Linked DNA regions of Homo sapiens. The protein of the gene in region 4 interacts with the protein of the main gene of each other region in a biochemical or structural test. Each region holds a gene or a part of one and is shown on either strand. Other genes may lie near its edges.

Evidence for each region.
Region 1: the proteins of SDC2 (region 4) and GRIP2 interact in a test that uses a peptide from one of them, tested with the Homo sapiens proteins (one large-scale study listed by IntAct).
Region 2: the proteins of SDC2 (region 4) and TJP3 interact in a test that uses a peptide from one of them, tested with the Homo sapiens proteins (one large-scale study listed by IntAct).
Region 3: the proteins of SDC2 (region 4) and ARHGEF11 interact in a test that uses a peptide from one of them, tested with the Homo sapiens proteins (one large-scale study listed by IntAct).
Region 5: the proteins of SDC2 (region 4) and SIPA1L2 interact in a test that uses a peptide from one of them, tested with the Homo sapiens proteins (one large-scale study listed by IntAct).
Region 6: the proteins of SDC2 (region 4) and GOPC interact in a test that uses a peptide from one of them, tested with the Homo sapiens proteins (one large-scale study listed by IntAct).
Region 7: the proteins of SDC2 (region 4) and LIN7A interact in a test that uses a peptide from one of them, tested with the Homo sapiens proteins (one large-scale study listed by IntAct).

What each region holds. Positions count from the first base shown.
Region 1 is NC_000003.12:14,537,543-14,541,746, forward strand, and holds the start of GRIP2 (glutamate receptor-interacting protein 2), read right to left. Parts: upstream 2,801-4,204; 5' UTR 2,767-2,800; coding exon 2,727-2,766; intron 1-2,726.
Region 2 is NC_000019.10:3,714,884-3,718,383, reverse strand, and holds part of TJP3 (tight junction protein ZO-3), read right to left. Parts: intron 1-3,500. UniProt on the Homo sapiens protein: TJP1, TJP2, and TJP3 are closely related scaffolding proteins that link tight junction (TJ) transmembrane proteins such as claudins, junctional adhesion molecules, and occludin to the actin cytoskeleton.
Region 3 is NC_000001.11:156,941,243-156,944,742, forward strand, and holds part of ARHGEF11 (rho guanine nucleotide exchange factor 11), read right to left. Parts: intron 3,192-3,500; coding exon 3,116-3,191; intron 2,861-3,115; coding exon 2,693-2,860; intron 1,539-2,692; coding exon 1,448-1,538; intron 748-1,447; coding exon 622-747; intron 192-621; coding exon 130-191; intron 1-129. UniProt on the Homo sapiens protein: May play a role in the regulation of RhoA GTPase by guanine nucleotide-binding alpha-12 (GNA12) and alpha-13 (GNA13). Acts as guanine nucleotide exchange factor (GEF) for RhoA GTPase and may act as GTPase-activating protein (GAP) for GNA12 and GNA13.
Region 4 is NC_000008.11:96,601,813-96,605,312, reverse strand, and holds part of SDC2 (syndecan-2 precursor), read right to left. Parts: intron 2,919-3,500; coding exon 2,785-2,918; intron 1-2,784. UniProt on the Homo sapiens protein: Cell surface proteoglycan which regulates dendritic arbor morphogenesis.
Region 5 is NC_000001.11:232,462,634-232,466,133, forward strand, and holds part of SIPA1L2 (signal-induced proliferation-associated 1-like protein 2), read right to left. Parts: intron 2,784-3,500; coding exon 2,207-2,783; intron 1-2,206.
Region 6 is NC_000006.12:117,575,012-117,578,511, forward strand, and holds part of GOPC (Golgi-associated PDZ and coiled-coil motif-containing protein), read right to left. Parts: intron 2,461-3,500; coding exon 2,437-2,460; intron 342-2,436; coding exon 166-341; intron 1-165.
Region 7 is NC_000012.12:80,927,935-80,931,434, forward strand, and holds part of LIN7A (protein lin-7 homolog A), read right to left. Parts: intron 1-3,500. UniProt on the Homo sapiens protein: Plays a role in establishing and maintaining the asymmetric distribution of channels and receptors at the plasma membrane of polarized cells.

The DNA.
Region 1 (4,204 bases), on a different chromosome or scaffold from region 4:
CCATTTACAGATTAGGAGAATGAGAATCAAAGAGGTGGAATGAGTTTCTCAAGGTCAGAGACTAGGAAGAGACAGAGCCAGGACGCAAACTCAGGCGAAGGATCCCCCATGGCCACAGCCCCTGCTGTGGAGTAGGAGGCCAGGCCTGCCTGAGGAGTCTCAGAGCCAAGGGGTAGGCCTGGTGAGGGCCCCTCGGAGGAGTGGGTAGCCCAGGGCACAGCAGGGGGACCTTCACACATGTACACCCACACCCACTGAGACTTCCCTGCCCCCAGCATGGCAGCAAGTGCCTGCTCAGACCTAGCAGGCCTGGAACAAAGATGTCTTTGTGGCTGCGGAGTCAGAGCAGGCCTCCCGTCCTCAAGGCAGGAGAGTGAACATGGAGAGGGACTTCCTGCCAAAATCTGTGTTCAGGCCTACTGTGTGCCCCAGCCTGGGCCAATGGAGATAGGTCACAGTCCCTTCCTGCCAGAACTCTGGGGTTAGTGACAGGAAAGCAAGACTCCCTGGAGTGAGACGACATGCCCAGGGTGTGGGGCCTGAGAAGGGACCCACCCAGAGTCCATCAGGAGCAGAGAAAGGGCATAGGGCTGCCTGGTCCACAGAGCCCAGCTCCAATCGGGGCACTCACTGACGCACACTGCCAGTGGGCTGACTTCTCAGGGCTGCAGTCTTCTGTGCCAAATGTGGAGGTATATGGCTGTCCTTACCAGCAACAGGGGAGGTCACATGACCAGGCCTGGCCAATCAGAGGCTCAGCGATCCATCAGGGGTGGGCATGTGATACAAGTTGGACCAATGAGAGCCGTTTCTGGGGCATTTGCTGGAACTACTGGAAATAGGCTCTCTTTCCTTAGGGATGACTGAGCTGGTTGACCTTAAGTTTGAAGGTGCCAGGAACTCTCAAGGAGAGGAGAGAGTCTGCCTGGAAATGAAGCTCACTAAAGTGAAGCAGAGCAAGCTACGAAGAGACCCAGAGTCCTAATGATGTTAATTGAGCATCTGGATCCCACTGTGCCTGAAGCTCCATCTTTACACTTTTTGGAAGAAGAGCCTTGGTGCTGATGCAAACTGAAGCAAGTGTGATCATGAGGTTCTGTGACCTGGGGAGGAGACCTAGGGTGGAGGCTACAGTGGTGAGGGTAGAGGTCAAGTAAGTCATCAGAGAGAGAAAATGTCAGAGAGGTCAGGAAGGGCCTTGAATGCAAGGCTTAGGAGCTGAGCAGATTTGTGTTTTGGCAAGCTTCCTCCCATGGCAGCAAAGGGGTGGAGGCCAGGCCAGGGAGGAGACTGGGCAAAGGCCCAGGCAGTTGATGCTGACCCTGGGCCGAGGTGGAGGTCACAGGCCCATGAGGAGGGGGAGACACCTCCCTGGCAGTGCCCCAGGTAAGGTCTCCAGGGCACTGCTGCCTTTGTGGCCCTGACCACAGCAGACCAAGGTGACCCCACTCACCTGGGCCTTGGGTTGAAAGAACAGATGTGTCCAGGCCAAGAAGGCAGAGCCTCCATTTACAGTGCAGTTGCCAAGGATGGGTGGGCCCATCGGGTCAAATCCCAGCTTTGTCACTTCTGGCTATATAACCCTGAACAAGTCACTTAGCAGCTCTCTGCCTCAGTTTCCCCAACTGCAAAATGGAGAGAATAACAGTACCCAAGTGGCAGTGTAGTTATGAGGATTAAATGAGAAAATGCACAGAAAGCTTAGAAAAGAGCCTGGCCCAGAGGAAGCTCTCGACAACAGCCAGCTATTATGATTATGAGTGTTATTTTTCCTGGGTCGCTAAGGCTGGGTCCAGAGGTGACCTGGCTCTGCTCCTTGCCATGGGAAGGGAGGTGGGAATCAAAGTCCACTGGGCCCTCAGAAGCAGGGCTGGGGGCTCTGCAGTAAAAGTCATCGGGGTGTCAATCCCAGCTCGGCCACTGCCCTCCCTGAGCCTTGGTTTCCTCCTCTGTCCACTGGGACCACAGTCCTTGCCCTTGGAGCTGTGGTGCAAAGATATGTCAAGAGCGTGGGAAGAAACCAGTGAGGCAACCCCAGGGCAGTGAATGCAGTATGTTCTGGTCCAGGCCCCAAGCTCCCTCTTTGGAGGAATAGGGTGAGCCCAGGCTGAGGCTGGAGAGACAGATGGAACAATCGTGTCTGCCCCTCCCCTGGGTCCCAGCCTCAGCACACCCAGGAATGTGGCAGCTGTGATCCCCCATCCCACACATTCCCAGAGCCCCAGGGGCTCACCAGTCAGACCCCCAAACCAGAGTTTCTCCTCCTGCCGAGAACCAGTCTCCTGCCCAGCTGTGCCAGCACAGGAACTCCTCACCACCACCTTGCCCATGGGCCTTGGGCTCTCACCCCTCTGGGTCGGACACTCACTCCCACCAGGCAGCTGTGCAGATCCTGAGATTGGGCAAAAGGCTTCGCTCACACCCAGATAGGACCAGCCTTCCCCCTACAAGGCTGAGCACTGCCCTCGGAACCTCCAGACCCGCCTGTTCTGCCTGCCTGTGCTGGACAGCCCTGGGGGAGGCTCAGCCATCCTGCTACAGGACAGTGGCCAGGGTCAGACAGACAGCCCCAGCAAGTGTCCTGCCCCACCCTCCCCAAGCCCTGGGTCTCCAGGGAGTGGCAGTCCCAGGTCTCAGCCATCCAGTCCCCTCTCTCTGGGCAGCAGCTCCAGAGGGATCTATGTGTTCAGCCCCATCACTCTGCCCACAGACCCCCCATTACGTACCCGCCTCTCCAGGGGTCTCCCGGCTGAGCCCACACAGCATGTTCGCTATTGTCTCCCCTGCTGCCCACCAACTCCCTCGGGAGCCACGCTGCTTGGCCCTCCCTCCCCTCCCCAGGGAGGGGCTGTGGGAGGGAAGCTCACAGCTCCCACTGGCTGGGCACCGAGTCCACCCACTGCAGCGGGCGGCTCTCTGCTTAAAGGGGACATGGCTATTGTCAAGGCTGGCTCCAGGACAGGGTCCAACATGCCCCACCCCTGCAGCCTGGGTCTGGACAGGGGGTCTTTGAAGGTGGCATGCCTGGGGCTTCCCCCAGGGCTCTCAGGCAGAGAGAGAGCCTGCTTCTAACTTGCCCTGGGACTTTGGCAAACGACTCTTCCCTCACTAGGCATCAGTTTTTTCATCTGGAGACAGGGAACAGTGCTTTCCAAACTTTTTTTTTTTCTAAACGGCAGATTCCAAGAGAATTTGCACAGAACCCCAGGACATAAGCTAGATGAAGCACAGACTCTTTGACTGCATGAACAATGCCAGGGCGTCTCTGTAGGTCTCAGCTTAGAAACCCTTGAGCTTGGAGACCCTCCAGGGCCCTCCCACCAATGTTCCAACTACCTCTCCTAGGTATCAGTTTTCCCTCGGTAAAATGGGACTTAGGAAAGATGAACCCGGCAGCCTGCCACGTGGAGTGGCCACCCAGCTTTTTGTGAAGACCAAGTGAGCTGGGTGGAGGATCTGCCCGCCTCTGGGCTTGATAGGCAGGGCCAGTTGGTCACAGGCTCCAGCCACACCTGGCAGGCTCTGCCCCGTCCCAGACCCAGCTGGGCCTTAGCCTTGCACACTCCTGGGATTCCTCCACATTGGCTCAGGACTGACCAGGCTGATCTTAATGGACACCTGAGGCTCCTCCTCTACCTGTCTGTGAGAAGGGGTGGCAGGCTGCACCCAATTTCCCCTGCCCTCCATCCCACCAGTGTGTGCTGGCACCAACTGAGGGTCAGACACCAAGAAGGGTGGGGTGATGGTGACAGGGCACTGAATGGTGGATGTCAACAACCTGTACAACTGCACAGTGCGTCTGGCAACAGAGAACCAGACAGACAAGGCCTGGCTCCCATGGAGTTCCTGACCGCGTGGGAACACACGAGCCTCATATTTCTTCCATGTGCCCTGCAGCTAGTGGGAGAGGGCTGCCCGGTAGTTAGGGACCCGAGGTTTCTTGTGGGTTCCCTCCAGAACAGTGACCCCAGCATGGAATTTAGCCACAATTCCTGGGCCGCCCCACACTGGCTCCTGCCAGCCCAACGCTAGTGGCACCTTTAGAATAATCCAGGTTCTAAATCTGGGGCAGGGCTACTTGTGCTTTTGTATCTGCAAACTCAAGACCCTGCCCTGCCGCCCACTTCCTATGGTGCCTTCCTCTTTGGGCAACTTGAGATCTGTTTCTGGGGGAAGGGTCCAGGTGCCAGGCAAGTTTCCCTTG
Region 2 (3,500 bases), on a different chromosome or scaffold from region 4:
TGGCCAGGAACAGTGGCTCACGCTTGTAGTCCCAGCACTTTGGAAGGCCGAGGCGGGAGGATCTCTTGAGGCCAGGAGAGACCAGCCTGAGTAACAGAGTGAGACTTCCATCTCTACACACACACAGACACACACACACACACACACACACACACACACACACACACACACTTTTTTTTTTTTTTTTTTTTTGAGTTGGAGTCTCGCCCTGTTGCCCAGGCGCAATCTCAGCTCACTGCAAGCTCTGCTTCCCGGGTTCACGCCATTCTCCTGCCTCAGCCTCCCGAGTAGCTGGGACTACAGGCACATGCCCGGCTGATTTTTGTACTTTTAGTAGAGATGGGGTTTCACCGTGTTAGCCAGGATGGTCTCAAACTCCTGACCTTGTGATCCGCCCCCCTCGGCCTCCCTAAGTGCTGGGATTATAGGCGTGAGCCATCGTGCCCGGCCTTTTTTTTTTTTTTTAATTAGCCAGTCTTGGTGGCACTTGCCTGTACTCCCAGCTACTTGGGAAGCTGAGCTGGGAGGATTGCTTGAGCCCAGGCGGTGGAGGCTGCAGTAAGTCATGGTCACACCACTGTACTCTCATTCCTGGGCAACACAGTGAGACCCCCATCTCCACATCCACAAAAATTTTTAAAAATATCTTAGGCAGGGTGCAGTGGCTCATGCCTGTCATCCCAGCACTCTGGGAGGCCAAGGCAGGAGGATCACTTGAGTCAGGAGTTGGAGGCCAGCCTGGCCCACAGGGCAAAACCCATCTCTACAAAAATACGAAAAATTAGCCAAGGATGGTGGCAGGCGCCTGTAATCCCAGCTACTCAGGAGGCTGAGGCAAGAGAATCACTTGACCCTGGGAGGCGGCGGTTGCAGTGAGCTGAGATCACGCCACTGCACTCCAGCCTGGGTGACAGGGCAGACAGCACAACACTATGTTTCAAAAAAAAATAAAATTATATATATATATATATATATATAAGCTATGGCTGGGCACAGTGGCTCACGCCTGTAATCCCACTTTGGATGGCCAAGGCGGCCGAATCACTTGAGGTCAGGAGTTTGAGACCAGCCTGGCCAACATGGTGAAACTCTGTCTGTACTAAAAATATAACAGTCATGGGCCAGGCGTGGTGGCTCGTGCCTGTAATCCCAGCACTTTGGGAGGTCGAGGCGGGCGGATCACCTGAGGTTGGGAGTTCGAGACCAGCCTGACCAACATGGAGAAACCTCGTCTCTACTAAAAATACAAAATTAGCTGGGTGTGGTGGCACATGCCTGTAATCCCAGCTACTAGAGAGGCTGAGGCAAGAGAATTGCTTGAGCCCGGGAGGCGGAGGTTGCAGTGAGCCGAAATCGGGCCATTGCACTCCAGCCTGGGCAACAAGAGCGAAACTCCGTCTCAAAAAAAAAAAAAAAAGTCACCTGGGCGTGTTGGCACCCGCCTGTAATCCCAGGTACTCGGGAGGCTGAGGCAGGAGAATCACTTGAACCTGGGAGGCAGAGGGTGCAGTGAGCCGAGATCGTGCCACTGTCTCCAACCTGGGCGACAGACTGAGACTCTGTTTCAAAAAAAAAAAAAAAATATATATATATATATATATATGTATGAGCTGGGTGTGGTAGCAGGCACCTCTAGGCGCTGAAGTGGGAGGATCATTTGAGCCCAGGAGGTCGAGGCTGCAGTGATCCATGATCTTGCCCTTGCACTCCAGCCTGGGTGACAGAGCTAGACGCTGTCTCAAAAATAAATAAAGAAATAAGTGGGTTAAAGTCCTAGCAGTGAATGGGGCTCCCGGGCCATGTTTACTGGCATATGCTTGGCTGCAGCCCCAGTTACACACAACACTCGTGCGCCCACTTTGCAGCTGAGAAAACTGAGGCCAGATGGTGAGCTGGCCTGAGGGATTTGGCTGCAGCTCTGTTTGCCCCTGCACCTCGAACTCCAAGCCAGTGCCTCTCACCAGAGGGGGACCCTTGGCAACGTCTTGAGACATTTTGGTGTTCAATACCAGGCCGAGCGCGGTGACTCACACCTGTAATTCCAGCACTTTGAGAGGCTGAGATGGGCGGATCACTTGAGGTCAATAGTTCGAGAGCAGCCTGGCCAACAGGGTGAAACCCCGTCTCTACTCAAAATACAGAAATTAGCTGGGCGTAGTGACAGGCACCTGTAATCCCTGCTACTCGGGAGGCTGAGGCAGGAGAATCACTTGAACCCGGGAGGCAGAGGTCGCAGTGATCTGAGATGGCGCCACTGCACTCCAGCCTGGGCAATGGAGCAAGACTCCATCTCAAAAATAAAACAAGTCGGGCGTGGTGGCTCACGCCTGTAATCCCAGCACTTCGGGAGGCTGAGGTGGGTGGATCACGTGAGGTCAGGAGTTCGAGACCAGCCTGGCCAACATGGGGAAACCCCATCTCTACTAAAAATACAAAAATTAGCCGAGTGTGGTGGTGGGTGCCTGTAATCCCAGCTACTCGGGAGGCCGAGGCAGGAGAGTTGCTTGAACCCAGGAGGCAGAGGCTGTAGTGAGCCGAGATTGCGCCATTGCACTCCAGCCTGGATGACAAGAGCGAGACTCCAACTCAAAAAAATAAAATAAAATGAAACAATAAAAAAATAAACCTGGAAGGTTCTCCTGGCATGAGTGAGTGGAGGCCAGGGATACTGCTAAGCACCCTGCATTGCCCAGAATGGCCCCATCCCAGAGAAGGATCTGGCCCCAAATGTCAATGGGCAACGCAGAGAAATCCCACTGTCAACCCCTCTAAGAGAGGAAGCTGGATAACTGCACCAGGACACATTGTCTTCCTCCAACCACCCACCGTCTGCTCTCATATCCATGCCCTGCTCAAGAACACTCGATGGCTCCCTAGTACCATCCTCCAAACCTGGGTTCAAATCCAAGGCTTTGGAGATGGGCATAGCCTTAAGCCCCTTATTCCCACCACCCCTGACCTTCGGATCACCTTAATGAATTAAAAACCTGCTTTTGGCCGGGCGCGGTGGCTCACACCTGTAATCCCAGCACTTTGGGAGGCCGAGGCGGGCGGATCACGAGGTCAGGAGATCGAGACCATCCTGGATAACACGGTGAAACCCCATCTCTACTAAAAATACAAAAATATAGCTGGGTGTGGTGGCGGGCGCCTGTAGTCCCAGCTACTCGGGAGGCTGAGGCAGGAGAATGGCGTGAACCCGGGAGGCGGAGGTTGCAGTGAGCCGAGATTGCGCCACTGCGCTCCAGCCTGGGCGACAGAGCGAGACTCCATCTCAAAAAAAAAAAAAACCAACCAACCAAACAAACAAACAAAAAACCTGGTTTTCTACTGTTGCCTCACGAAGTAAAAATAATAATAGCAAAAAGAAAAGGAAAAAAAGAGAAAATCTGCTTTTCAGCAATCTACTTCATTTGTGCCTTAATTCTTCTGTGCATTCAGTCACTCAGTCAACAAAACTGTTGCAAGCCAAGTATATGACGTGTGATTGGGAACCAGCG
Region 3 (3,500 bases), on a different chromosome or scaffold from region 4:
TCTACTCTTTATCAAAACCTCACACCCCGGGCCCTGATGGACTCTCCCATCGCCCCCATACTCACACCCAACCTGTGCCTACAGAAAAAGGCCTGGGCTGGCTCCCACAGGACAGTTCAGGGCCCTTACCTCCAGGCAGCTCCTCAGGTTCAGGTTCACCATGGAACACGTCTGAGTCATCCAGTTCTACCCTGAGGAAGGAAACCAACACAGGATGAGATCCCATGAGATTCCACCCTGGACTCATGCATTAGAATGGGCAATGGAGTAGGATCCGAGAAGGACGGTGTGGGCCTCTTCACCTGGCTGGTCTGCTTGGCAACCCAGAGAGGAGGGGGGCTGCTAGCTGAGCTTCTCTGGTCCCTTGCTCTACATCCCCCTCACCCTTCTTCAGGCTCAGCTCTATTATAGCCAGGTGGCAGGCTGTGGGGGAGCAGACAGGGACAAGAAGCAGGGACAGGGGGCATGTTCCTCCATCTGCCAGCACTTGGAGCTGTCTGCTCCCTGCTAGCATTTCCCTGTTGTGGCTGTCTACCCACGGGGGCGAAGGGCTTAAAAGCAGCAGGAAACAGGAGGTTTGGAGTGGAGAGAGTGCAGGGTCTGGAGGGCTAAGCACTGCACCTGCTGGGTGTGGGGCCCTGCTGGGCTGGCTCCCGGGGACCTGGGGGTGGAGGATGGACGGGCATTGGGGCAGCTCCGGGGTGCCTGGTGGCATTCCGCACGGCCTCTTCTAAGAGCTCCATCCATCTGTTGCTCGGCAGGAACAGAGAGGACTGTAGTGAGAGCAAGATAGCAGCACGCACCACCCCGTACTGAGCCCACTGGAACAGGGCTTCCAGGCCCTAAGAACCCTCTGCCTGGCAGGTGCCCACCTCCCTGTACAGTCCTCCCTGGCTGCTCCCTTGCGGTTATATTACTTGCAGCTACCAAATCCTGGACACCAACCCTCTGTTACACTCTGTGCAAAGCATTCTATGTTTTCCCTCTAAAGTAATCCTCTAACAGGTAGCATTAGCCACATTTTACAGATGAAAACCCTGGAGTTGGGAAACAGTCTGACTCAACCTGTCTCCTTCCACTGTACCATGCCACCTCTGGCAGCTGCTGTCAAAGAACATGGGCTGGGTGGGAGGCAAATGCCTGAGAAGGATGCATGAATCTAATCTGCCTAATGGTGAAGGGAGTAGGGCAGGAAGGAAAGAAGCAGCAGCAGCGGCTGGAAGACTGCCAGAAGCTCATTCTCCCAGAAGCGGGCCTGGTGACCAGGTCGGGGGTGATGACCCCTCCCAGCTTCTCTACTTCTGTCCTACCTCCCACTTCCTTCCCAACCCCTTGTCCAGGGACTGCTTTGGGGCCCAAACCTGGCCTTGCTACCCACTGTCCTCATAAACACCACCCTGGTCCGAAAGGGACCACAGTTACGGGTAACCCCTCAATCAATTCTCACGTGTTCTTGTCTGATGACGTCAATGCAACCAGCTCATAGATCTGGGGTGGGCCCAGCTTGGAGGTGCAGATGATGAAGAAGGCCCGTTTATCTGTGTGAGGAAAGGAAGGTAGAAGGGTCTGTACTAGGGATGGCAGGTGTGACTGCAGCCTGGGCCAGGGTGACAGAGTGGGACTCAAAGCCCTGACCCTCAACGCAGATGGAGAGTGCAGCACGAGACAGATGTGGATCTTCAGGACCACTTGGAACCCACTTACATAAGGGACAGAGGAAATTCCAGGACCCCTAATGTCATCTTCCACAGCCACCCCCATTCCTCTCCTGCTCTAATAACAGTGATGGCTGATAGGTGTATGGTGCTTAGGAGTTATAAAACTTTTTTTTTTTTTGAAACGGATTCTTGCTCTGTCACCCAGGCTAGAATGTAGTGGTGCCATCTTGGCTCACTGCAACCTGCGCCTCCCGGGTTCAAGTGATTCTCCTGCCTCAGCCTCCCGAGTAACTGGAATTACAGGTGCCTGCCAACATGCCTGGCTAATTTTTGTATTTTTAGTAGAGATAGGGTTTCACCATGTTGGCCAGGCTGGTCTTGAACTCCTGACCTCAAGTGATCTGAGTGCCTCGGCCTCCCAAAGGGCTGGGATTACAGGCATGAGCCACAGTGCCTGGTCAAGGGTTTATAAAACTTTTTCATACCCGTCATCCCTTTTGATGCCCACAAGAGGTAGGGTAGGTATCACTCCTATCTTACAGACGAAGAAAGTGAATCCAGAGAATTTTGCTCCAGAGCCCTTTCTCACACACACTACACTTCTCATTGAAATGTCCCTGTCCACTGGACCCAGCTCTGTACCGTGGGTACTAACATCTTCTGTAACCAAGCTCTGCCCAAGTCACTCTGTAGCAGAAAGGCTTGTCCTACTCATTCTGCCTAATCCCATTCTTCCCAATCCTGCTCAGACACTCTCACCCATCCTGGGTGTGCACATCCCATCCAGCACTGTGCTTGGGGACTGCTGACCACCCCTGTGCCAGGTTGTCTGTCTTCCTCTTGGTCCCCATCCTAACCCTCATCCTACCCCACTTTGGGCCAGTCCTACCACTTAGGCTGGGTCAGGACAGGAGGAAAGGAACACAGGTGGACAGGTAGGTCCTGTAAAGGCTCCAGACTGGCCCTGCCTCACCCAGCACTTGCTGGACATGGTCCCTGAGCCCCAGGCCAGCCTGGACCATCTCCCCAGGTACCTGTGGCCACAGAGCGGATGAGCACAGCATTGAGCTTGAGCACGGGGCTGAAGGTCTGCTTGCTGTCTGAGGAGCCCACAGCAGTCTTGCTGTGGCACTTCAGCAATAGCTTCTCATCCTGTTTCTGTAGCAGCACTAGGAGGTCCTCCAGCAGCAGCACGTGGAGGTCTGGAGGGGTATGGTCATGGGAAGGTGTTCCCTGGTGCCTACTCATCCCTCATGAGCACAATGCAGGGCCACAGGCTCTTGGAGGCTCTAGGAAGTCCTGGGAGTCTGGTGACCCCATTTCTCTCTCTGATTATTCCCTTCCCATGTCCTGAGCTATCACCTCCAGTCATGTTTCCATGCTTGGGAAAGACAGAAGAGCCCAGGGAGGCCCACCCACTACAGGTTCCTGCTCAGTCCCAGTCCCCTGGCACATACCCAAGGTCTTATCCTTGCTGATCCTCCAGGTCAGGGGTCCCTCATGGATCATTTTTCTGGTTGTAAGATCCAGGCTCTGTTAAGGAGACACCATTCATTCATTCATTCATTCATTCATTCATTCAAGTGTTTGAGAGCCTACTGTGTGCCAGACATTGTGTTAAGGTGCTGGGAATTGGTAAATAAGAAAAAGTCCTTGCCCTTACTCTCTTGTGCGGGATGAAGACAAGCAAAAAGGTAACTGTGAAGTCATGTGCCATGTGGCAGCAGGGGGATATACCAATGGCTCTGACTTGGGTCTCCCACCTGCCCCTACCACGTGCCAGCTACAGTCCCAAGAAGATCACATACTGCTTTTCCTGCCCATGCCTCCAGCTCTATTCCC
Region 4 (3,500 bases):
AAATAGGTGAATACTCAGGTTTGTGACTAGGGAGAGAGGTAAACAAGTTCTGGTGAGAAATGAAATGGACCTAAGTAGTTACTGTAATATGAGAGACTGAGTTTAATTCATCCATATCCATATCATCTTTGTCCCATTATTATTACAAATCATATGGTTTCACCATGTGATTGAGTCCCTAAAGTCATTTAAGAGAGTTGATCTTTTCAGTTTCCTCTGACTCAGCCTCTGATCCGGCAGGCTGAACAAAGCGTGCAATCCAGGGATCTGAGAGTGTGGGAACTGAAGGACTCCACAGAACTGGAGCCGCCCTGCAGCTGGAGGTGCACAAGCCTCAAGCGGCTCTGGGTGGAAAATTCATTTTTTAAGTCAAAATGTTTTATCGTATGGAAGCAAAGGCTTGACTAAGAAGATACCATTTGGTAATATGGAACTAATCTGAAATACCTTCACTCTTGTATGAATGTATGTGCAAAATGAATCCGCAAAAAGACAGCAGGGATGATTAAATGAGGCCAAGTAAAGATCTGCCACATCCATGTCTGGTTGTTTGGATGCCATGGAAATGCAACAGAAGTAAAAGCTTATGAGTGATGCTCTTCTCAAACAAATAACGAGATTCCCTTTTGTGCATTTTAGTCACTTAAATTTACAACAAACTAGATAGGATATCCGTAACAGTGACATTAATGCCACTGTGAGACCAATTGAAAAGCAAAATCTACACTAATGGTATCCTAGAGGCAATGTTCAATTCGGCTGTACCACATAAACAGCAAAATGAAAAATTTAATCATTATTATTCATGTTATTCATGATCAATATTATCATTATCAGTGCTGCAAACAGTGTTCGACACATAATGAATAGCACTCAACAAATCTCCTATAAATGGATGAATTTCTACTATTACTATATTGAACACAAATGATAGTAAGAATATAAATGTATTAAAATCTTTTGGGCTCCTTAATTTTTAAATTCACCTGCCAAAGTTCTACATTTTTTATCTCGATCTGATGCAATTACTTCCTTAAAACCAATTTTTAAAAACTTAAATTAGTGGTCAATCCATTGCTGTTAACAAACCAGACAGAACTCTATGTCAAATTAAGTCTTGCTTAGGATAGAACTCTCTATCACTACAAGCCAAAACTCACCCAGGAGAGTTGCTTCCCTCAAGCTAGTGAGTCCTAATTGTCTCTGACTTCAGCAGATTTAGTCAAGAGAAGTGGTCAAATAAAAATGTGGTAAGAGCCAAATGCATCTTTAGTAAATAGTAGCTAATTGTGCCACACACACTCTGAGGCAGTCATCGTACCACCAATTGCACCTGCACTTTTCATTTCTCCCTTTCTTTTTTTGTTTCATTCACTCAACTGAAACATTGATACAGTAGCTTTTATGCATGGATCCAGCACATGCCAGGTGAGTCGGTCTCAGTTCTCATAGGGCTCTCCCTGCCTTCCTACCGCCTGGCTTGTGAAGTCTACCACTAATAGTAATTGACCCTTCTTGGTCCTACAGAAAGCACTTCAATTTGGACAGGGCTGGCTTCCTGGCTGTTCCACATCTGCAGAAACCCATCCAGCGGTGCCATTCACCATTCCAGTCACAGGCACTGGGAGGATGGAGGAGGAGGAAGAACAAAGGTACTCTGGGGCAAGGGTAAGAAAAGCCCACATGCATTCTGGCCTGAAGACGGGATGATTCTTACTCCAAGGAAGGCCTGTCGCCACCTTCATCAAACAGCCTTCCATATCCATACCCTGTCTGCTGCTAAAGCTTGGCAGCATCTCATTTCTAATCAACAGATGGGTGAGCTCTAAAAGGGGATGCTTGTGCTTCTGAGTTTTCTTAAGCCATATGTTACCCCTGCACTGATTGCAAAGTCTACCACTACAGTTATTACACATGCTCATTTGGTGAATTGGCTTGGTCTCTTCTGCTCCACCAATTCAATTAATGCTTACAGAATGGTGACTAGGTCTCAGGTGCCATGCTACATGCACTCACATTTCATCTTCTTCAAGGCCCATAGGAAATGGGTTCAGAAGCTAAGAAACCTGACTGGATCCAGGATTTGAAACTTAGGTCTTTGCCAGACTTTAATATGCATGTTCTAACTTCAGTGGGTTACCTATTAGTGGATGGTCAGCTAACTGCAATATTAACGAGGTCAAAATCACAAGCTCCAAGTTTTCATTAGCTGGTCACTTTACTCAGGTCTAAGGCCAAAGACCTTATTCTTAATAAGTCAGCTCTCAAAATGAATATATACAGATGTACCCAGGTTCATCATCATCGAGAGAGGTCAAGGATTACATAGTACTGATGGTCGGCCTAGGAAGACTGAGAAATGACTTAGTGAGACTAGGACCACCTCAAGACGTGACCTGGAGTCTTCTAATTACGTAACCTACAAACCAGGAAACCAAAGAAACAGGGCTTTACTTCTTAACTGGGCTTCAGACGTTCCTTAAGAAGGAGGGCCATGTGAAAAATAGTTGTATATAATTTGAGCCTGGATGACAGAGATTATAAGTGGGTAAATGCCAAAATGATCAAAAAGAGTAAGGAAGAGCCATTTATAACACCACCTGAAGACCATTTGTCCTTACACAATTTTAAGTGGGGTCTTTTAAAAGAACTGTTGTGTACATAGTTCATGATGGGTAGCTCCAAAAAGAAGAAAATAATACAAAAGGGACTGTTGTGTACAGTCAGTAAAGTGAAGCATTTGTAATAACCTGATAATGCAATGCAATGGAAAATAGAACGCACCTTTGTCTGAGCAGGTATCTTGTTCTGTATATTCAGCGTCGTGGTTTCCACTTTTGGAGCAGCACTAGTCAACAGTATCTTTGGAAGTGGTCGAGATGTTGTCAGCTCTGGACTCTCTACATCCTCATCAGCTCCTGGAAAAGTAAGTGAAGATGAACTGAGCATGGCAATCATGACACAGATGTCTCCATTATCAGGCACTATTGCCTGACGTTGACACTGACAGAATCATGTTCTTTCAAAATGCTGGCTCTTTAAGACTTCAGCACAAAGCTTCCTGTGGTCTTCACCATGATGAAGAAGTGATTTCAAAGGTGTCTGTGGGTAGTCTAGCAAGTTTTTCCTTAATAGTATTATCCTGAACATTCAAGTAGCCCTTCTTTCACTTGCATGTTCCTTTTCTCCCTGCTTGACAAGATTTTTTCCCATCTACACTGAAACGTGCTCCATTTCCATTTTAAGAACACAACAGTCCAGGTGCAGGGGCTCACGCCTGTAATTTCAGCACTTTGGGAGGCCGAGGAGAGCGGATCACGAGGTCAGGAGATCGAGACCAGCCTGGCCTATATGGTGAAACCTCATCTCTACTAAAAATTCAAAAATTTAGCTGGGCGTGGCGGCGCACGCCTGTAATCCCAGCTACTCGGGAGGCTGAGGCAGGAGAATCACTTGAACCTGGAGGTGGAGGTTGCAGTGAGCAGAGGTCACACCATTGC
Region 5 (3,500 bases), on a different chromosome or scaffold from region 4:
AGAAGTAGTTCTGTAATAGGCACAACACAAATAAATTTTGGTCACTTCTTTTTCAACTTTGTTCTAAGCAATCCTATCAAAAGACGACACATAAGATGTACCCAGCCTTCTTTCAAATATCAATGCGATTATCAGGTGAAGTTTATCATCCATGTATCAGGCTGAAGAGTTATTGGCTGAGCCTTTCCAGAGTCCTCCAGCTCTGGCTCTTCTGCTCATTTCCTCCAATCACCTGCCACCTCCCCTACTTTGTCTTTTTGCTATTTCTTTATCCCCTCTGTTTATTGCTTCCTAACATCCCCAAAGTCTGAAGTAAGGTGTTCTCCATGTATTTGGACTTCTTCCATGGACCCAATTATCACACGAAAATTGTAGTCTCCAAGCCAGGACTGGCTATGTAATTTGTGGGGCCACAAGAAAAATCAAAATGCGAGGCTCCTTATGAAAAAATTAGTAAGTATTTCAAGATGGCAATGGCAGAGCATTCAACCAAGCACGAACTCTTCTGAGAGCGGGTCCCTGTGCAACTGCATGGGTTGCACATCCGTGAAGTGAGCCCTGCCTGGCCCTCTAGGAACAAACTCTCATTCTGCTCCTGTACTGTTACCTGCAAGACAGACCCTTTAGTTCCACTTTCCACCACCTGAGAATGGATACTGAGTTAACCATCTGCCAAACGGGCAGGCATTCCCAACATCTCCACTAAGACTGCATTCTTCTCTTTCTTCCCATTTCTGTTACTACCACTCTGCATCAACCCTTACGATCTAATCCCTTCAACAGTCTTTGGTCTGGCTTGTTTCCAACAGCTCATGTTGCAAGTCATCCTAGACACAGAATATAATTCCTAAAATATATTTGTAATATTGTGCATCTTGGTCACACTGACAATACACTTTTCTAGGAAAATAGGATGGAGTCCATCGAATAGCAAATGTATAAAAGCCCATGTGTAAATATCCAGGGAAAGTACATTTTTGTGGTTGGTGAAGTGGTATTTGTGTTGTATTTTCAGAAGCACAGATTATAATGATTTGGTGGATATGCTAAAAAGAAGTATTTGCAATTAGCAAAAGCAGAATGCATCCAGAGACTCACCAGTATAATTCAAGTCAATTCTCTAGGTATATAAACTAATCATTTACTTAATCACCCCAAACTCTTATCTAGGCTTGCTCACGTATACCTGATAATACTGTTGAACACACTGAGGCCCTTTACTGTAAACAGAGTCCACAAATAATGAAATTACTTTTCCAAGGCTAGCAGACACTGCCCTGATTTTACCTTCTCTTATACATGGTCTCTAATAACAAAAGGGAGGAAATATTTTTGGTGGGAGGAAAGGGGGCAAGAAATGGATATAATTTCTCCTTTTCTCATGATCCATAGTGAACTAAACCTTTTCTAATTAAAAAAAAAATTACATCCCTCTTGGGGGAAGATTTACACACAAGAAATTCTATTGTCAAAGCATGTTTTTTTCTTATATTACCAAAAATAAAAACTAGAAGTAGTTTGATTTATTCTTACTACTTTATTTTATATGCTCAAACTAAAATCTGATTCTTACTTTGTTAAAATTGGGAGCAGAAATATGACTACTGAACACCATGGATAAAATATAAGGGTTTTGCACTAAAAATCACATACATGAAAATCTTTCTTAAGTCTAACTTTTCAAAAGCCTTTCTAAATTAATGTGTAATTCTGAAAAACTCCCTTAAGAAACTGTGGCTCTAAGATTAATAATATATTTAATCTGGCACATTAAACAAAAATAGCTGCTGTATAAACATGCAGGGGTGAAACTGCAGATAGGACTCGTCATTCATACAGTCAACAGCAATTCTGTTGTTAATTACCCACTGGGAAGGTATGTTATGTCAGCCTCCATAAACAGACATTCTACCCAGACACTTCTGTTTTTCCTTCAAATGCTACTAAAATACATCTTAATGTTCTCTTTTGCAGGTTGGCTTAACTTTTCTTTTCCAATTGATTTATGATGGTTGCTTCTCCACCATTCATGTATTCAACAACTCCCCAAAAGGACCCAGCATTTAAAATTAAGCTCTGTATCTGTAACAAATAGTAATGCATTCCCTAATTGGTATAATCATGGTAGCAGTTCCCCAGTGAAAGTTATTTTGAATCTGGAATTGAAAACATAAGGATGGCGGGAAAATAGAAAACATGTACTTACTACTAATCGCTGAACAATTTCCCTGATGTCTTCAGCACAGTTGTCTACCGAGGACAGGAGGACACATTCTCCTCTTTCGTAAAACACTTTGATACTCACTAATCCAGATGTCCACCCAATCACATCCCTGCAGGAACAGTTGAATACAACATTCTTGGAATCCTTTTCAATCAACATGATGAACTCATTGGAGATCCCGAGAAGACATTCAATGTCAGCAGACTGGCCGAAGTCCCGGGCTATCACGTGCCACATGATGGCCCCAATGCTAAACAAGTGGGCATCCTTCCTTGGCTTTACCTTCTCCTTTTTCTTCGCACCCAGCGTAATGAAGCTGAACTTCACAGAGGTATCCACGGTGGCGGTTGTGACAAAGTTCTCCGCCAGATCTTTCAAGTACTCCTGCCTCGTTCGAGTGGCCATTGCTCGAAACTTTTCTGATTTATGGGCTGCATTTTCTGCATTGATTACTTTGGCTAAAAGGAAGTCCCGGAACACGGCTGACTTTGGAAAAGTTACACCTTTGGGAATCGGTGGGCCAAATGGTGGCACATCTTTTGATCTGGAAACTCCAACACTGAGGAAGTAAAAACAGAAACAAAATGAGATGAGCTATGATACCATAATATGTATCTTTCCGAATTTGACATATATATACACACACACACACATATACATACACACACACACACACATATACATACACACATACACACACACTTTCAACTTAACTGGTTTATTCTGCAAGTTCTTGTTCTCCTAATTGCTGCATACCCAGGGTTTGTTGTTATTGTTGTTTAAGCAAAATGCTTTAAACTTAGTAGACAGGAGGTGTAATGGGCTGAATTATGTCCCTCTCAAAATCCACACGTTGACAAGATAACCCATAGTTCCTGGGAATGTGACGCAATCTGGAGAAAGGACCCTTAAGGAGGTGGCTAAGTGAAACCATTCGGGTGGGCCCTAATCCAACTGACTGGTGTCCTTATAAGAGGAGAAAATTTGGGCTTACAAAGAGACACCAGGGATGTATGCACACAGAAAGAAGACCATGTGAAGACACAAGGAGAAGACGGCCATCCATAAGCCAAGGGGAGAGGTCTCAGGAGAAACCAATCCTTGCTGACACCTTGATCTTAGACTTCCAGCCTCTAGAACTCTGAGAAAATAAAAGTCTGCCGTTTAAGCCACCTAGCCTGTGGCATTAGTACGGCAGTGCTACCAAACTAATACAGGGGGTAACACATCCACAGCATGTGGAATAAGCAGGCTGGCACTCTATAACTCTGTGGGG
Region 6 (3,500 bases), on a different chromosome or scaffold from region 4:
GAGGTTGCAGTGAGCAGAGATCATGCCACTGCACTCCAGCCTGGGCAACAGAGCAAGACTCCATCTCAAAAAAATAAAAAATAAAAAAAGAAAGAAGTAAGAGTCAACCTCATTAAATATCCAATTTGTCACTTAAGAGTACAATAATACCCATTTTTTACACACCTTCCTGCCAGTTCCTTATCCAAGTACTTGGCAGCTAGTCTCGCCCCATATACTTCAGCCTGGAGAACAGCTATATGTCTACGAAGGGCTTCATTCTCTTTTCTCAACAATTTCACTTCAGCTTCAAGTTGTGCTTCTTTCATTTTTTCTTTTTTGTTTGCCTCAAGCTCTCTTTCCTATGTAATTTTTAAAAGCATATAATTTAATGAAAATAAAAACTCTTTAGCACTAGACCATGTTCCTGAAAATGCACAAAAGCCTACAGTTCAACAATGTATCATCTCTATAAAATGGAACACAAAGATCTGGATGTAGTTCTTTTGAACTAGTACCATAACATCTTGGAACTACTTCTAGATAAAATAATTGCACGCCATGGGTTACCCTGATATGGAGTATAGTAAGAAAAGTAGTCTACTCTAAGCTCATGTTATCACATATTAGTAAAAGTGGCTTCAATGGATAGTTGAATCTGCTATTTACTTCTAAAACCCTTTTGAGAGTTAAATAAGGACCCCAATAGACATTTTAACTGTTATTTATAGATCAAAAAAACCACGTAAACACTGAAAACTTGCATTTATCCTGAGCAGAACTGCTTTTACAGAATCCACAAATCCTATGAAAACATGGTTACATTTGTTCACAATATGTGGAAGACATTATTCCCTATACCCCCTTTGTCCCTTTTGTGAGGACGTAAATAAAAACCTACCTTAGCACCAGAGAAATTGTTTCTCTTGAGGAAATGATGAATAGTATTGTTTCTATTGTATGGGCACTGATTATTTTACATAATTATTTCCCTTTTTATTCTGGATATTGAGAAGCTAAGAAACAAATTTAAGCAAATTTTCAGCAATTCATGGAATATATTTTGGTACTAATTTAATGTGCCTCCTTTGGTCTACTGTTTTGAACAACATCAAAATAGATATATTTGAATACTAGTCAATAAATACGATAATCCTAAAAAAAATATATTTACATATACACACACACATACAAGCTAAAATTAATGACAACTACTAAATGCTAGATATATTTATCACTTCTTTGATTAAAAATATTTGTTATATATATGACAAACAGATGAAAGATTAGCAGACTCAATTTCTGGGAAAAAAAAGATTAGAACGTAATTTCTAGATACTGGTTTTAAAGGATTCGAAAAACTCAATCTAGAATCCTCCTTTTAACATAATTTTGGAATTATTAAACTCTTATTTCAGAACCTATGTCCTAAAAGGGCAAGTATCTGTTTCAAAAGAAACCAGTTTGGAGATACAAACAAAAATCTTTCTTATGACATGTTAAAGTTGATGCAACTTTTGAAAGAGCACTCCTAGACCAAGATTTCTTTGGCTTATGGGCTAAATAAACTTTATGTTGATGATTACCTACTTTCAATTACTTTAATGAGCTATTTATACTACATTAATGAAATGTGGGAGACATACTAAGCTACCACTCACTGGGGTTTTAATGATTCAAATCCCTAATGAATCTGACAAACTCTTGGGCCCGAAATTAACAGAGGTAAGCAAGAATAAGATGAAGGAAACTGAAGTTAACCATTTCTAGATTTCCAGAAAAAAATTTTCTTGGTTCTTAGTTAACCTGTTTGTTACTAGGTAACACCCAAGATGTTCATTTTACATTTAGATACCAAAGATTATATCTTCAAAAGAGGTAAAGCCATAAGACAAATTGGAACTTGATTAGGTTGGGGTAATGAGAAAAATATTAAAAATGTATTGTTATTTTCTAAAATAACTTCTGCTAAAGCATTTCAAAATTCAATTGTTTCAAAGGCCATACGATTATTCTCAAGACTCTTGAAAAGTTGTAACGCAGTAGATGAAGAAGAAACCAACATGCACATTCTTTTCTGGAAATAATTTCAAACAGAAACTTAAGGGGGTTAAAAACTAAGCCTGCTTGATATATCTTCAATACCCTGAAGTGGGAAAACCAATTGCTCTTTGAAGTAGAGGTATGAGCAAGCTACAAGGCTCAAAAATTGTCAAAAATTGACAGGCTCTGCAAATAATGGCTATAAATCACTAACAAAAGAAAAATGTTTAACAACATGCAGTGAGAAAAGAGCAATGGGCCATCCACTGAACTTTTCAGGTACTGGAACATTAAAAAATTGCCATTATTAATGCTATTTTCAAATACAATGAGTGACAACATATAATATGCAAATAAAACACTAAGAACACTTCAGCGTGACATATTAAAGCAAAACAGAAACAATATACTTACCAGCTCCTCCACAGAGGGGCCAGACTTCAGATATAAGAAAAAAGTTTTATAATTAGAAAAAGATCAAACAAATGATTTTATTTAGTGGTATAGTCATTATAAGGAAAAATCCCACATGTTGGATATCATTTGGGTAAAGTTCATTAGAACAAATATATTTGCAATCTATAAACAATAGTAACTGTAATAGCATTAGATTAAAACTTTTTGTTTTATCAAAATTAGTCAACATAACTGGTACAGTGTTCTTTTCATCATACTCTTTCAAATTCTAATGTTAAAACTTCAGGTAAATTCTTTTCTAGAGAAAATTTAGATTGTTTCTGAATGTTAATGTCAAATAGCTCGAAGAAGCAGTTATGAGCTTTTATTTCAGTTAAATAAAACCCTTCTAACACAGATTCACAGAGTTAGAAAACTTAAGAGTTTAACTTAAAATTATTTTCATGAATTTTAACACATCAGTACTAGGAACTAATTAACCAAATGAAATTAACTGAAAACAAATAAAACTTATAAATGTATTACTCTCATTATATCATCAACATCATTTCATGTCCTGCCTCTGCCAAGCAATAGCTGTCTTATTTATTGCTGTGTCCCATATAGGAACAAAATATCTGCTATCTCTTACACACTCAAAACATATGTGGTACACAGTGGCAGGAAAAATGCTTACAATATATTAAGAGCAAAAGAAAAGAATGTGCTACTGGTTGGTACCCAATTCCATTTCTTACTTCTTCCTTATTAACAGACTCCAGTTTTACTGGAAGTGGCCATATGGCCAATAGGAGACTGACATGCAGCTGGGGATGGTCAATGAAATGCTGGCAAAAATTACTGAGAAAGATTTAATAATAAGTTCTTTAAAGAAGGCTAACATCATGGAGAAGCATCTTTTTGCCCTTTCCTTAGATTAATCCTTCTTCCTGCCTGAAATGCAGACATGAAGAAATCCTGAGGATGGAAACCATAAGCTAAAAATGGCAGAGCACAGTGATGGAAGGAATCTGGATCTCTAATATTTGTGGAGCTGCCGTATCAACTCTAGACTGCCGGTC
Region 7 (3,500 bases), on a different chromosome or scaffold from region 4:
TCTATGAGTGAGAATATGCGGTGTTTGGTTTTCTGTCCTTGTGATAGTTTGCTGAGAATGATGGTTTCCAGCTTCATCCATGTCCCTGCAAAGGACATCAACTCATCCTTTTTTATGGCTGCATAGTATTCCATGGTGTATATGTGCCACATTTTCTTAATCCAGTCTATCATTGATGGACATTTGGGTTGGTTCCAAGTCTTTGCTGTTGTGAATAGTGCTGCAATAAACATACATGTGCATGTGTCTTTATAGTAGCATGATTTATAATCCTTTGGATATATACTCAGTAATGGGATCGCTGGGTCAAATAGCATTTCTAGTTCTAGATCCTTGAGGGATCGCCACACTGTCTTCCACAATGGTTGAACCAATTTACACTCCCACCAAGAGTGTAAAAGTGTTCCTATTTCTCCACATCCTCTCCAGCATCTGTTTCCTGACTTTTTAATGATCGCCATTCTAACTGGTGTGAGATGGCATCCCATTGTGGATTTGATTTGCATTTCTCTGATGACCAGTGATGACATTCACGTGTCTGTTGGCTGCATAAATGTCTTCTTTTGAGGAATGTCTGTTCATATCTTTTTCCCATTTTTTGATGGGGTTGTTTGTTTTTTTCTTGTAAATTTGTTTCTTTGTAGATTCTGGATATTAGTCTTTTGTCAGATGGGTAGATTGCAAAAATTTTCTCCCATTCTGTAGGTTGCCTGTTCTCTCTGATGATAGTTTCTTTTGCTGTTCAGGAGCTCTTTAGTTTAAGTAGATCCCATTTGTCTATTTTGGCTTTTGTTGCCATTTGCTTTTGGTGTTTTAGTCATGAAGTCTTTGCCCATGCCTATGCCCTGAATGGTATTGCCTAGGTTTTCTTCTAGGGTTTTTTATGATTTTAGGTCTTACATTTAAGTCTTTAATCCATCTTGAGTTAATTTTTGTATTGTATTGAGTTTAATTTTCATCATGTTTTAAAACTTATTATTAACATGATTAATATACCAATACAGTTATTCTAATATCTTTTAAATAATCCCTGCTAGGGTATGCTGTATTAGTGTTTTTCTACATTATTAATATTAACTAGTTTTATATTTAATTTTCCAGAGAGTTTTTATAATATTTTGATAATTTAATCACACTGCTCATGATGAATTTATTATTATGTTGGTGCAAAAGTAATTGCAGTCTTTGATATTACCTTCAATGGCAAAAACCTCAATTACTTTTGCACCAACCTAATAAATAAAGTCCTCAATCTTTTCCAAATAAAATACTCTTAAACCAGATTATTCCAGTCAGACACCAGTACAATCAATATGCAATCAGCATTCTAATTTGATTCAATCTAATAAATGAAGGCTACATTCATTTCCTCTAAATTTTATCTCTTTTATTGTAACCTGCCATTCAAGCTAGGAATAATTTTAGAATATTGGTAGGGTTGGCCAAATTATTTGTTATTCCTCCTAGCTTAGTCACCTGTAAAGTTTGTTAAAATATATTCTATGGTGCTCATTCAAAATATTGGTAACAGTGCCAAACAAGACCATGAACCAAACTTCCTTGGAGAAGTGTTTCTACTAGAAATCCAACAATGCAATCATCCACTTTATGTATTTCCACATTTTCCACAAGGTGTCTGTGAGAGTTGTGGGGTCATGAATATATAATGAGACTATGACATATGTCTGAACTTCTGCAATGTCTACTCTTAGTGATTTTCCACGTAGCCTCTGGGATCACCACTTTCTTTTCTAAGTGCCAATATCTCATTCTTTTAAATATATATATGTACACACACACACACATTTTATATATATTTTAAAATATATATATGGGCCAAGAGGCAACAAATAGATTGCCCTATAGTTTCCCAAAACACCTTTGTCATCTTTTTGGAAGCCAGGTTATTTGTCCATCAGCAATTACTGCTCTTCTCCAATTTTCCTCAAAAATCACTTTCAGCAGTCCCTCAACTATATTCCCCAATTTTTTCTTCATTATTGTTAAATAGACCCAGCTGTGATTTCATGCTATGTTTCTCCATCTATCTTGTGGGTTTAAATCTTATAGCCATGTTGTGACTCCCATTATTCTATCTTTTTTTAGTTAAAGGTAATCCTTTGATTAATTTAAAAACAAAAGATGTTATATTGAAATATAACTATCTCCACACTGGGCAAGTAAACAAAAGTTGCACAAACAGTTAGACTTGGACTAGCTATATTGTTTCTAAGGAAAATTACCATCAATGGAAATTAGACACCCTAGCTTTATGTCCAAGATAGGTAGATACTTGAATATAACTACAAAATAAGTTTCAATCCCTCATGATTTTTTTCAAGTGGTTTTCAGGCATATTTATTTTTATTGGACAAGTGTTTGAATTCAGTTAGTATATTACTTAGCAAAATTCAATCTTTTTTTTTAAAGATCTCAATTGAATAAACCAGAACTAAGGCATGGATGAAATTAACACAATTTTTAAGGTTAAGTTCACATTTGGTAGTGCAGAGTGAGTTCAAGTTAAATCCATTTTAATTTGTTTATTAGGACATAGTTCTGTCATTCATGTATTTATGGTTAAAAAAATTGAAAAGCGTAGCTTATATATATGTGTGTGGAGGGGGGCAATTCTATAGCAACTCCACCCATTTAAAAAACCTTTTCAGTTGTATTCTGACATTAGCTCGTGCGATTCAATTCATAAGTTAAAACAGCAGGGTAAATGCAGACAACTGAAACAGGGCTATGACTATCAAAACCAACACCTCACATTCTTTCTTGGCCCTTGAGAGCACTACACTTGTAGGAGCCAGCTACATACACAGAGAGGCAAAGTGACATCCTAAGGTAGCCACTACTTTTCATTATTTTAGGTTAGAAGGCTTTTGTTTTGTTTTGTTTTGTTGCATTAAGAATAATCCATGACAGCTAAGTCTTGCTAAGCCAATTTTATTCATTCATTCACTCATTCAATCAACAAATACAAAGAGCGTGCCAACTATGTGCCACACAATGTGCTGGGTTCTACATAAACAAACCCGACATGGTCTCTGACCTGATGGAAAGTATATCCTAACAGGCAAATGTCATGACTTTAAGAAAAGAACTCAAAGAGATACTGGCATTGTGCATATAACACCATCTCTAATACCCAGGACACCTTCCTGTTTGATAGTACTCCCTAGATGTTTTCTTTCCTCTACTTAAGAGCTAGGCCTTAGTTGTGATCCCTGAAAAACAACACTCATAAGCAAGAGCATTAATTTCATAACTGACAGGAGCACACCAAATACATTTCAGGGCTCGGATGAATGACACACCAAACTAGAAAGGATTCACCAAATTTCTTATTTTTGTAACCAAAATGCTTTAGAGATTTGAGTCATTCTCTTTGTAACTTTTAATTATCAAATAAAAAACAGGCTGGGTGCAGTGGCTCTTGCTTGTCATTCCAGCACTTTGGGAGGCTGAGGCACGCGCATCACCTGAGGTCAGGA